Linked DNA regions of Homo sapiens. The protein of the gene in region 1 purifies or fractionates together with the protein of each later gene. This does not show direct contact. Each region holds a gene or a part of one and is shown in the gene's direction. Other genes may lie near its edges.

Evidence for each region. The genes of interacting proteins can lie anywhere in the genome.
Region 2: the proteins of ZNF718 (region 1) and TRIM24 purify together in Homo sapiens (affinity purification with mass spectrometry; one large-scale study listed by BioGRID and IntAct). This does not show direct contact.
Region 3: the proteins of ZNF718 (region 1) and STK3 purify together in Homo sapiens (affinity purification with mass spectrometry; one large-scale study listed by BioGRID and IntAct). This does not show direct contact.

The regions. Positions count from the first base shown.
Region 1 is NC_000004.12:122,706-127,758, forward strand, and holds the start of ZNF718 (zinc finger protein 718), read left to right. Parts: upstream 1-1,795; 5' UTR 1,796-1,965; coding exon 1,966-1,968; exon of another isoform or gene 1,969-2,066; coding exon of another isoform or gene 2,067-2,543; exon of another isoform or gene 2,544-2,886; intron 2,887-4,358; exon of another isoform or gene 4,359-5,053. Other genes in the region: uncharacterized protein LOC124900641, read right to left, coding at 2,067-2,543. UniProt on the Homo sapiens protein: May be involved in transcriptional regulation.
Region 2 is NC_000007.14:138,585,759-138,589,258, forward strand, and holds part of TRIM24 (transcription intermediary factor 1-alpha), read left to right. Parts: 3' UTR 1-3,500. UniProt on the Homo sapiens protein: Transcriptional coactivator that interacts with numerous nuclear receptors and coactivators and modulates the transcription of target genes.
Region 3 is NC_000008.11:98,454,133-98,456,410, reverse strand, and holds the end of STK3 (serine/threonine-protein kinase 3), read left to right. Parts: exon of another isoform or gene 1-172; coding exon of another isoform or gene 173-226; exon of another isoform or gene 227-410; coding exon 411-569; 3' UTR 570-1,778; downstream 1,779-2,278. UniProt on the Homo sapiens protein: Stress-activated, pro-apoptotic kinase which, following caspase-cleavage, enters the nucleus and induces chromatin condensation followed by internucleosomal DNA fragmentation.

The DNA.
Region 1 (5,053 bases):
GTGCTGCAAACAAAAAATGCACAGTGAGTTTAGAATAATTATACCAGAAATATACTTTACTTCTTTTTTTTTTTTTTTTTTTGAGACGGAGTCTTGCTCTGTCGCTCAGGTTGGAGTGCAGTGGTGCAATCTCGGCTCACTGCAAGCTCTGCCTCTCGGGTTCACGCCATTCTCCTGCCTCAGCCTCCTGAGTAGCTGGGACTACAGGTACCCGCCACCACGCCTGGGTAATTTTTTTGTATTTTTAATAGAGACGGGCTTTCACCATGTTAGCCAGGATGGTCTCGATCTCCTGACCTCGTGATCCACCCACCTCAGCCTCCCAAAGTGCTGGGATTACAGGCGTGAGCCACAGCGCCTGGCAAAATATAGGTATTCCTAATTATGTGTCTGGAGTTGGTTCCTTCCGGTGGGTTTGTGGTCTTGCTGACCAAGAATGAAGCCACGGACCTTTGTGGTGAGTGTTACAGCTTTTAAAGATAGCACGAACCCAAAGAGTGAGCAGTAGCAAGGTTTATTTTGAAGAGGGAAATAACAAAGCTTCCACAGCATCGAAGGGGACCCCAGTTGGTTGCCACTGCTGGCTGGGGTGGTCAGCTTTTATTCCACCTCCCATTTCCCCTTAATTGTGCCCTCCCGTGTTCCGTTTTTGTCCTATCACAGTGCCCTTTTTTCAATCCTCCCTGCAATTGGCTACTTTTAGGATCCTGCTGATTGGTGCATTTTACAGAGTGCTGATTGGTGCATTTTACAATCCCCTTGCTAGCTACAGAGCACTGATTGGTGCGTTTTTACAGAGTGCTGATTGGTACATTTTACAATCCTCTTGTAAGACAGGAAAGTTCTCCAAGTCCCCAGTTTACCCAGGAAGTCCAGCTGGCTTCACCTCTCAATTATATATTGATCACATATTAAAACAATAATATTTTGGATATAGTAGGCTAAAATTATCACAAACAATCTCACTTGTTTTTATTATTTTCGATGTGGCTAATAAAAAATTGAAAATTCACTAATAGCTAACATTTTATTTTTTAGAGGATTACTTCCTTCTTAAAATCTCATGTGTCCTACTCAAAAGACCAGAGGCCAGAAAGGTTATAAAACATTAAAATAATTGTCATTATATTGTTTCCGTTTGTGAACAAGTTTGTGTATGCACGCGTGCATGTGTACGTGTGTGTGCATGTGCGTGCATGCATGCGTGTGTGTATAATTTATATTATAAATGGACCTAACCTTACATACCACAAGGTTAAAAAAATGACCACTGGGCTGTACCAAGCCAAGCACAGAGATAACACCCCAGCCTGGGCCGGGCGTGGTGGCTCACGCCTTTAATCCCAGCATTTTGGGAGACATAGGCGAACAGATACCCTGAGGTCAGGAGTTCAAGACCAGCCTGGCCAACATGGTGAAACCCTGTCTCTGCTAAAAATACAGAAATTGGCCGGGTGTGGTGGTGGGCACCTGTAATCCCAGCTACTTGGGAGGCTGAGGAGAATCGCTTAAACCCGGGAGGCAGAGGTTGCAGAGAGCCGAGTTCGCGCCACTGCACTCCAGCCTGGGCGAGAAGAGCCAGACTCAAAAAACAAACACAAAAAACCTGCCTCAAAGTACCAGGAGGCCAGAGCCTGTCACTCTCGCCTCATTCAGTGCTGTGTATGGTTGCAACTTCTGTCACTCAAGGCCTGAGGCGGGAGACTTACAGCTCTATCCAATTAGAGCGCTGGATTGACAACTGCCGAATGAGGCGCGCAGCAGAGAGGAGGGTGCGGCATCCGGGATCTGGCGCGGCTTTTGCTTGTAGCTCCAGCCAGAGCTCGGTTAGGGCCTCATCGCTCTGCTCCCGCTCCTTAGGGAAGCCTCGGTGATTCTGCCACAGCCTCAGCCTCTGTGGCTCTGTGACCTGCCGGTATTGGATGATTCGTATCTAAGACTCTGGGACACTCCTGAAGTCGGGAAATGGTGAGTGTGCAGGGCAGGGCGTCCCAAGGCTGTGGAGGCCTCATCGGAACCGGCGGGAAATGGCGGCGGTGGGAGGAGTCTGTGAATGGAGTTCCCGCTCAGCCCTCTGTCCTCAGTCCCCTCCGGTGAGGGACCCGCGCTCTTGTCAGTCCCCGTACAGCGGCTCTGGCCCAGCCTGCAGCCCTCCTTGTGCAGCTCTGCGCCGGTAGCCCTGCACTTTCCCCGGGCTGTGGAGTGAGTAGGAGCTCATCCGGAAGACACCGCGGCGGCCTGCGCGGTGCCGGCGTGGGAGGAGCTGTGGTCCGGAATCCCGTCCCTACTTTACCCTGTTCAGAATGAGATTGAGGCCCCATCAAAACATGGAGTTCATGTGAGCAAACAGGACTTATTAATGGGAAAGCTCTGCCGTGGCTCGTGGTTTGGGGACTGCCAGCGGGTCTTGAAGGAAAGGCTTTTGTGAGGTGTGTGAGGAAGCGAAGCAAATCACCTGCCTGCGCCAACTTTGCCGCCAGTCCCCTTGCCCTGTGCGCCTCCTCCGCGTGGCTGTTCCTGAATACGCTGGTGTCTGTTCGCATCTTTTAGAATACGCTGGTGTCGGTGCGCACAGCGCTTCTCTTAGTTCTGTGAGTAGTTCTGCCACATTATTGAACTTGAGGAGGGTGTGGGCGTCCCTGGTTTGTAGGCAGGGGTTCAGAAATGAAGACGGGTGTCCAGAGGCAGGGACTGGCGTCTGCAGGAGAGCAGCTGCGGGAAGAGTGCTGAGCTTGTGGGGTCAGCGCTGACTCTGGGTGGTGTCGTTAGTGAGTTGCTGGACACCCCGTTGGGGTTGGAGCATTGACTGGTGTTGAGGAAACTCCGCAAGTTTTCTGTCAGAAGAAAGACATGGCCGAGTCTGGGTTGGAGGAAGTCACCTGGTGTCCGCAGGAGGCGCGGCCGGGTTCTGCACAGGCGCTGTCCCGCTGGGCACTGTCCTCTTCCTCCAGGCCTCCTCCCGGGGAGAAAGGGGACTGGGAACTTAGAGGAAAGCAGTTCTAAGAAACATCCCTTCCCCGCATCCTGCTGCCAGCCCCCACCCAATGCTAACCCACTCCTGAGCACGCCCACTGGGCATTCGCACGGCCACACCTGGCCTAAGACAGGGTTCTACCCTCAGGAATTGTGCCCATGGCAGTTTTGCTCCTACAGTTTTCTGCCAAAAGCACACGCAGTGCCCAGAAGACTCCTGGCTCATCTCAACCCCAGATCTGTTTAGCAGGAGCCCGTTTCCTTCTCCAACCCAGGCTTCTGGACCATCTGATCTTAATCTCCTATGCCTTTATGGACTCAGGAATCAGTCAGTGCGTAGCCCTGCCTGGGCCTGTACCTGTAGCACAAACCAGTCCTTTCATCAGTTGTGCCCTGCCCCCACCCCATGGCTCTTGATAGCTCCTTGCTGTCTTGTGCTTTTTCCTTCCCCACAAATCCTCTTTTCTGTGCATACAGTGTGCCCAAGTTCATCCCTTACGTGCCTACAAGAATTCAGACGTTAGGGAATTCAAGACCATGCCTTAGACCTGGCTGTTGTAGGAGCAAATACAAATTAGAAGAGGCTTAATGATTTCTCTTTAGAGTGAGGGAAGAATTTTTGCTCTTCTCCCTTTTCTTAAAGCATTTAGGTGGAAAATTTTTATAATTATTTTCACCAGTTTTTGAAATATATGTAAATCATTTTTATCAGTTAAATAGGTCATTTGTCTTTTTTGACTCAGACTTGTCTTTATCTAGGACTTGGGAACTATTGCTTTGAAATGTGAATAGCAAGAATATATCCCACAGTTTCTGTAGGAGGGTGGGAGGCTGCCTTCAGCAGGTACCTGGCTCCACATTGTGGGTCTACGTCCTGTCATGAAGATGTGGGAAGTTTATTTTTCTTTTGAATATTACCAATTAGAAAACCCAGATTACCTCCCAAATTACTAGGTGAAATAATAAACTGTGTAAATGGTGCTTTCAAGTCTTCTACTTAAGAACTAATGGTGACTTTTTTTCTGTGTTTGCAGTCTCTTAGTAGATTGCCTGTGATGCACATCACATTTTGGTTTAATTATATAACAAAACATTTTCTTGCTGTTCTATTATGGTGGAAAATTTTTTTAGGATTGGAGATAATTTTTCTCTTTTTTTTTTTTTTTAAGACGGAGTCTTCGCTGTGTCGCCAGGCTGGAGTGCAGTAGTGCGATCTCGGCTCACCGCATTCTCCACCTCCCAGGTTCAAGCGATTCACCTGCTCAGCCTCCTGAGTAGTTGGGATTACAGGCGCGCCACCACACTCAGCTAATTTTTTTGTATTTTTAGTAGAGACGGGGTTTCGCCATGTTGGCCAGGATGGTCTCCATCTTCTGACCTCATGATCCACCGGCCTTGGCCTCCCAAAGTGCTGGGATTATAGGCGTGAGCCACCGTGCCTGGCTGAAAATTTTTCTTTTAGTCATATTTTCCATGCACTGTTTAGAAGTACTGGACGTTATATACAAAGTGCCCACCAGGCTTCACTTGAGAGAAAAACCTTTCTTCTCAGGATTCCAGCCACAACCCACAATTGTATGACAAAGTGCAGCAAGGTGCTCCCCAAATCTGCAAACAAAATAGTCTCTCTATTTGGGATCTACAGTCCCTTCTAGAGCAGTTAGACTAGATTTCTACAAAAATCACTTCAGGACAGCAATCAGTTATTTCACCTCCTTCAGTGCTCCTGTCATCTTCAGATCTGACACGGATTCAGAGATCACGGGGCCCATAAACCCAACCAGGATCATACATGTGCATTGATTAAACTTGAGAACTTCAATTCTCTCCCTCCTCCCTTTGCCCAAATGCCCGCAAATGTGCATAGCTCACCAGCCCTCCAAGACCTAAATGTGCAGTTCCAAATTCTGAATTTATTTTCTGGGATTTGAGAGAAGAAAAGAACTTTTATTTGAGAAATACATGTTCTTTTAATGATCAGACCCAGAGACTGGTTAAAATGAGACCACAGTGATGTACTGTTCCCGTCTTTGAACTATTTGTCTTTTGAAATTGCTTGCTATTGGCACAAGTGGCTATA
Region 2 (3,500 bases), on another chromosome or scaffold:
TGATCCTTTTACAACAAGCCTCATTGTTTGCAGTATAGCTTTTAGTGGAACTACCCAAAATATAAATACAGCAGCGTGCACTGTATTTGATGTGAGGGTTCTTCATCATATACCCTACTGGGCATTAAATATAAGTTCCTCTGAAAGGGACTCGTTTTTGTGGTTTTCATCTGTCTATAATTTGGAATGAAAATGTGTTGTAGGATTTTGGGAGCAGGCAGCTGGGGGGAATTAATAGTGATTTTTTTTTTTTCCTGAAGCATCTATCTCATGTTTTTCTTTTGAGAGTCAGAACATCAAACTTAATCTTTGATCTGACTTCTGATTTTATTCTTCTGATTGATTGATAGAGGTACAAAAGACTTATCTTCTGAGGACAAGCATATTCTTAATGTGCCAGACCTACCCGGTTCAGCTGATATAGATAGATAGATAGATAGAAGAAAATTGCTGTGCCATACATTAATCCAGCATTTGACACAATATCTAAATGGTTTGCCGAAGTTAATCTGTATTTATAAAACATTAACTGGAGTAAATTTTTCTCCTTAGGATGATAGAATAAAAAGAGCTCACTTGAAAGAAGGCTATTATTTGCATTATATCACCTGCCATAAATTTAACATAGAAGACTTGGTTTTATCTACATGGCTTTACTTCTTAAAGTGGAAAATATCCTGTGGCTAATTCATTGGGTTTTCAGGTACTGCTAAAGATAAAATACAGGGAGAAAATAACTTGTTAGCAATAGATCCCCATTGTTTATATATATAGGTCTTGTTCATAATATGTCAATTATGTATTGTTAAAAAGTCCTACTCACTTTTCAAATATGTGTTACATGGTAATGTTTGTCATTGTTGTTTTAAAGTTGCATTTGACATTTGTTCTCCAAAGAGTGTTTGAACAGATTTTGATAACAGTGCATACACCTTTTGTCTTTTTTTGCTCCAGCATTTTATTTTTAGCACAGCAGCTGTGGAGCTTTTGCTGATAATTTTATTGTTGGTATCTTAGAATACTGTTCGTCTGACAGTTTATTCTTCCATACTTGTCTCCCAAGTTAAAACAGAGCAAAACAGATAAATTATTTTGAGAATCATCACAAAAGGGAGTTAGAACTTGTGAGACTAAAACTATAATTTCCTAAATGTGACTAATGAACCCCAAACTGTCACTATTACATTCAGTGCCATATTTATCTTTCAAAACAGTATTTGTTTCACCCTAACCATCTTTGGCTGAATGAAAGGCAGTTGAGAACCATCTTTTGGTCATACATAATATAATTATATTAAAAGTAAAGATCGGGGCTGGGCGCAGTGGCTCACACCTGCAATCCCACCAGCACTTTGGGAGGCCAAGGTGGGCGGATCACAAAGTCAAGAGTTCGAGATCAGCCTGGCCAACATTGTGAAACCCCGCCTCTACAAAAAATACAAAAATTAGCCGGACATGGTGGCGTGCAACTGTAATCCCAACTACTCAGGAGGCTGAGACAGGAGAATCACTTGAACGCAGGAGGCAGAAGTTGCAGTGAGCCAAGATCTCACCATTGCACTCCAGCCTGAGTGACAGAGACTCAGTCTCAAAAACAAAAAGTAAAGGTCTTGGGTTTCTCTCTGTAAATAGCCTTTGTGTAATGGTCTTTAGATTAATATCCTTTGACTTTATTAATAAGTACCTGTGTGCCCAGGTGGATCTCAGCTAAGTCATCCTTAAATTCTGTTCAAATAGAAATAAACCATAAAATGAGCCTAACTATAACCCACACTCACTTATCAAGCATTCCCCCAAAAGTTCAGTGCGATTCAGGTAACCTTGACCTAAACTTGTACACTCCGGTGTACATCTTTGACCATAAACTCTGGGAGATTTCCCTCTGGATTTGGGATCAGGAGCCCAGTAGGGCCCCATTGCTGAATGTTTATCACACTTCTGGCTAGGGCTTATGGATGAGCAGACCACGTAGGAGCTAGGATTTACTCAGTTCCACCTCACTGACAGCTTTTCTAGGTGCCAAGCAACTGACTTTTCCTGTGTAAGGAAGCCCAAGTACTTGACCAGTGATATATATGGCCATGGCAAAAGTATAAATGGATGGATGTAGACCATATTCAACGCAGAATACATTTTAGATCGGTATCTGGCATTGTAATCATTTTGTCTTTTGAATTAACATGCCCTGCTTGTCTTTTCTGAATGGAAGGGTAGGAAAGTGGAAGGTACTAAAAAGGAAAATGTAGTTTTAGTTTCTTTTCTAAGCTAAAGAACTGGCTTTACTACTGCTATATTTTACTACCACATAGTAGTGTAGATGTAGTATAACTTGCTTAGGAATGCTTTCAAAAAGGTTACCTCCATAGTCAAAAAAAGGGGGAGTATACAGCTGATTGTTGCATTTATGAAACTGCATTTCAATATGCTATGCTGTTACTGTGCTTAGACACTTCCTTACGTTTGAGTTCCAAGGAGAGAGAGTGAGAAGAGGAACTCCTTTTGCTGAGCTCTGGTCCAAATTAATGTGAATCCCCAAAGTAAATTGCTGCATATGAACAACAGGTTTTAGGTTTAAATTGAAGATACATTCATTTTATATGTATTTGTTGTGAATGAGAGAAATTGAGTGATCTGATTGGCCATTAAAATTATGGTGAATGGGTCGGGCGCAGTGGCTCACGCCTGTAATCCCAGCACTTTGGGAGGCCGAGGTGGGTAGATACCTGAGGTCAGGAGTTTGAGACCAGCCTGACCAACATGGTGAAACCCCATCTCTACTAAAAATACCAAAATCACCAGGGTGTGGTGGCCCATGCCTGTAATCCTAGCTACTCGGGAGGCTGAGGCAGGAGAATCGGCTTGAACCCAGGAGGCAGAGGTTGCAGTGAGCTGAGATCGCACCACTGTAGTCCAGCCTGGGTGTCAGAGCAAGACTCTGTCACAAAAAGAAAAATTATGGGGAATGGCCGGGCGCGGTGGCTCACACCTGTAATCCCAGCACTTTGGGAGGCCGAGGTGGGTGGATCACCTGAAGTCAGGAGCTCAAGACCAGCCTGGCCAACATGGTGAAACCCCACCTCAACAGAATATACAAAAAAATTAGCTGGGTGTGGTGGCGGGTGCCTGTAATCTCAGCTACTTTGGGATGCTGAGGCAGGAGAATAGCTTGAACCCAGGAGGTGGAGGTTGCAGTGAGTCGAGATTGCACCATTGCACTCCAGCCTGGGCAACAAGAGCAAAACTCTGTCTCAAAAAAAAAAAAAAATGGTGACCATGCGTTCAACCATATAATTTCTTACTGAAATTGAGCTCCTCCTTTTGAATAACCATGTACATATTTTTAAAAGTATTTTATAGCCCTATGTAAATTAATAGTTGATGTCTTTTTATAAATGTTTATTGCATATTCATCTTGAATGTGAATTTACTGTTGTAATTCACATACTGGTGTCATGTTTCTGAGTGAGAATAATGCTAGTCAGTCAGATCACAGATTTTTC
Region 3 (2,278 bases), on another chromosome or scaffold:
TGCAAGTGTTCATGATTATTGTAGCACTCAGTAGCTGGCAAAGATGTAAAAAGTTAGAGTGAATATACCTGGAACATATTCTGAAAATCTGTTTGTTGGCAGTGGTGGATTTGTCTTTGTACCTTTTTACAAATTCCATCAGCGTATTTTTCTCATTTGCCCTTTATTAAAGGCAGAGGATCGGATTGCTTCATTGCAGATTACTGGAGGTTCTTGCAAGATATGACCTCTGAGTTCTTCAAGGAAGAAATTCCTGTTTTAATTGTTGAACTATACTTCAAAGATGATGTAAAGAATTTGCTGAAATATTTATGTTAAAACTCATTAGACATTAAAGTCTAATTTCATTGTATTGATTGTGGATAATGTGGATAATTTCATTGTATTGGTATCTTTCTTTCTGTATCTAGTTGAAAAATCTAAGTTTAGAAGAACTACAGATGCGGTTAAAAGCACTGGACCCCATGATGGAACGGGAGATAGAAGAACTTCGTCAGAGATACACTGCGAAAAGACAGCCCATTCTGGATGCGATGGATGCAAAGAAAAGAAGGCAGCAAAACTTTTGAGTCTAATTTCCTCTCTGTTTTTAACTATTCTGGAGACCAAGAAACCACTAGGAATTGAAGGAATATTTGGATATTTTTAATCCTAAGATTTTGCCCTACAATTAGGCAGAGGTCAAAAAGTGACAATGGTACATGCCCAGGTAAATTCCCAAAAGGCAGAATTGACAGTTGTATCTGCTGTGCATTCACTCTAAGATGAGGAGAACAAAAGAAGTGTATTCTCTTGTTCTGTCAGCTGCATACCAGTAATAAAACTGTTATGAAATGGATTTTCAAGGTCTCTAAACCTTGAAAATCCAAAGCTATTGTTGCATTGTACAGCACTGAAGGGCTTTATGTTACAATATTCTTTATTCCTATCTAGTATACTAGGCTATTTATTGTATCCCCTTAGGTAAACTTATTTATTTATGCTATTTTGCTTTGTTTCATTTTTTAAGGACAAGATCAGGATAGCTTTGGTGAAGGTAGGGTCATATTAATATGATGATAATGTGCAACCAATTTATACTTTCTGCAGGGAGCTATGGGGTACATTCCTTGATTTCCAGGATAGTTTTTCAAATAGGAAAGCAATAATGGCAGTAGTTCTCAAATGGGCTAGGCCTTTTTTATATTGAAGCAATAATTCCATTTTTACCCTTTGAAATTTTGTTTTTTTGATTTTTGATGTTTGGTACAAATAGAACTATATATATTTAGGTAAAATAGATCTATCGTGTTTAAAACCAAAGAAATCAATGGAACCCTTGCACAAAAAAGTGTGATAAATATTTTTAAATAAAAACTTAATACAAATGTAATTTGTTAATATTGTTTCATGTTTTATGTGTAGATCTAATAGCTGAACTGATTCAAACTGTAATAAGCTCATCAATTTCATTTCTATGAAAATGTGCTCTGTTGTCACAGGATGTTTCTGTTGATTTTATTCATTTCCTGGGAATTGGTAAACATCATGTTCCTGATGATAACCCAGTAGCAAAAACATTTGTACTGAGTGGTACAAGCCTTGGGGACTGAAAAAAAAAAGATTAAAACCATTAAAAAGAAACTCATTTTTACGCTGAATGAACATTTATATGATTGCATTGGGACCAGTCATTTCCTAAGCTACATATGGCCATCTTGACAGTGTTTTTTCTTTTGTGTGTTTAATTATTATGTGTAAATCATAAAGACAAATAAATTTCACTGTGCCACCCAGCATATTTCGTTTCTGTATCTTTGTTAAAACTCATGACCTGGACTCTGCATTTTCCAAGCAAGGGACGTATATTAGTTAGGACAGGCTAGATTATGCAGTGCTGACAACCCTCACCCTTCAGCGGCTTCACATAATACAGGTTATTCCTCACTCTTGCTCCAGGCCCACCCCAGTTTGGCAGGGCGCCCTGCTCCTATCATCCACACCCAGGGACCTGCTGACAGGGCCTCAACCATCTGAGATATCTGTGGTCACCACAATAAGGAGAAGGGGAGCTGGAGAGTTTCATACTAGCTCCAGCCAGTAGTGATACATGTCTGGTTGGCCACAACCCAGTATTCAGAATTAGTCACATGGACACTCCTAACTTCGAGGGAGTCAGGAAGAGTAGCATCACCACGTAGCTGGAGGGGAGAGAACAGGAAAAGCTGATGAGTTCACTAATGTCTGTCACAGAAGGTATATTGTCTCTGGAAAGCTTCCATTCCTTTTTAAAAATGGT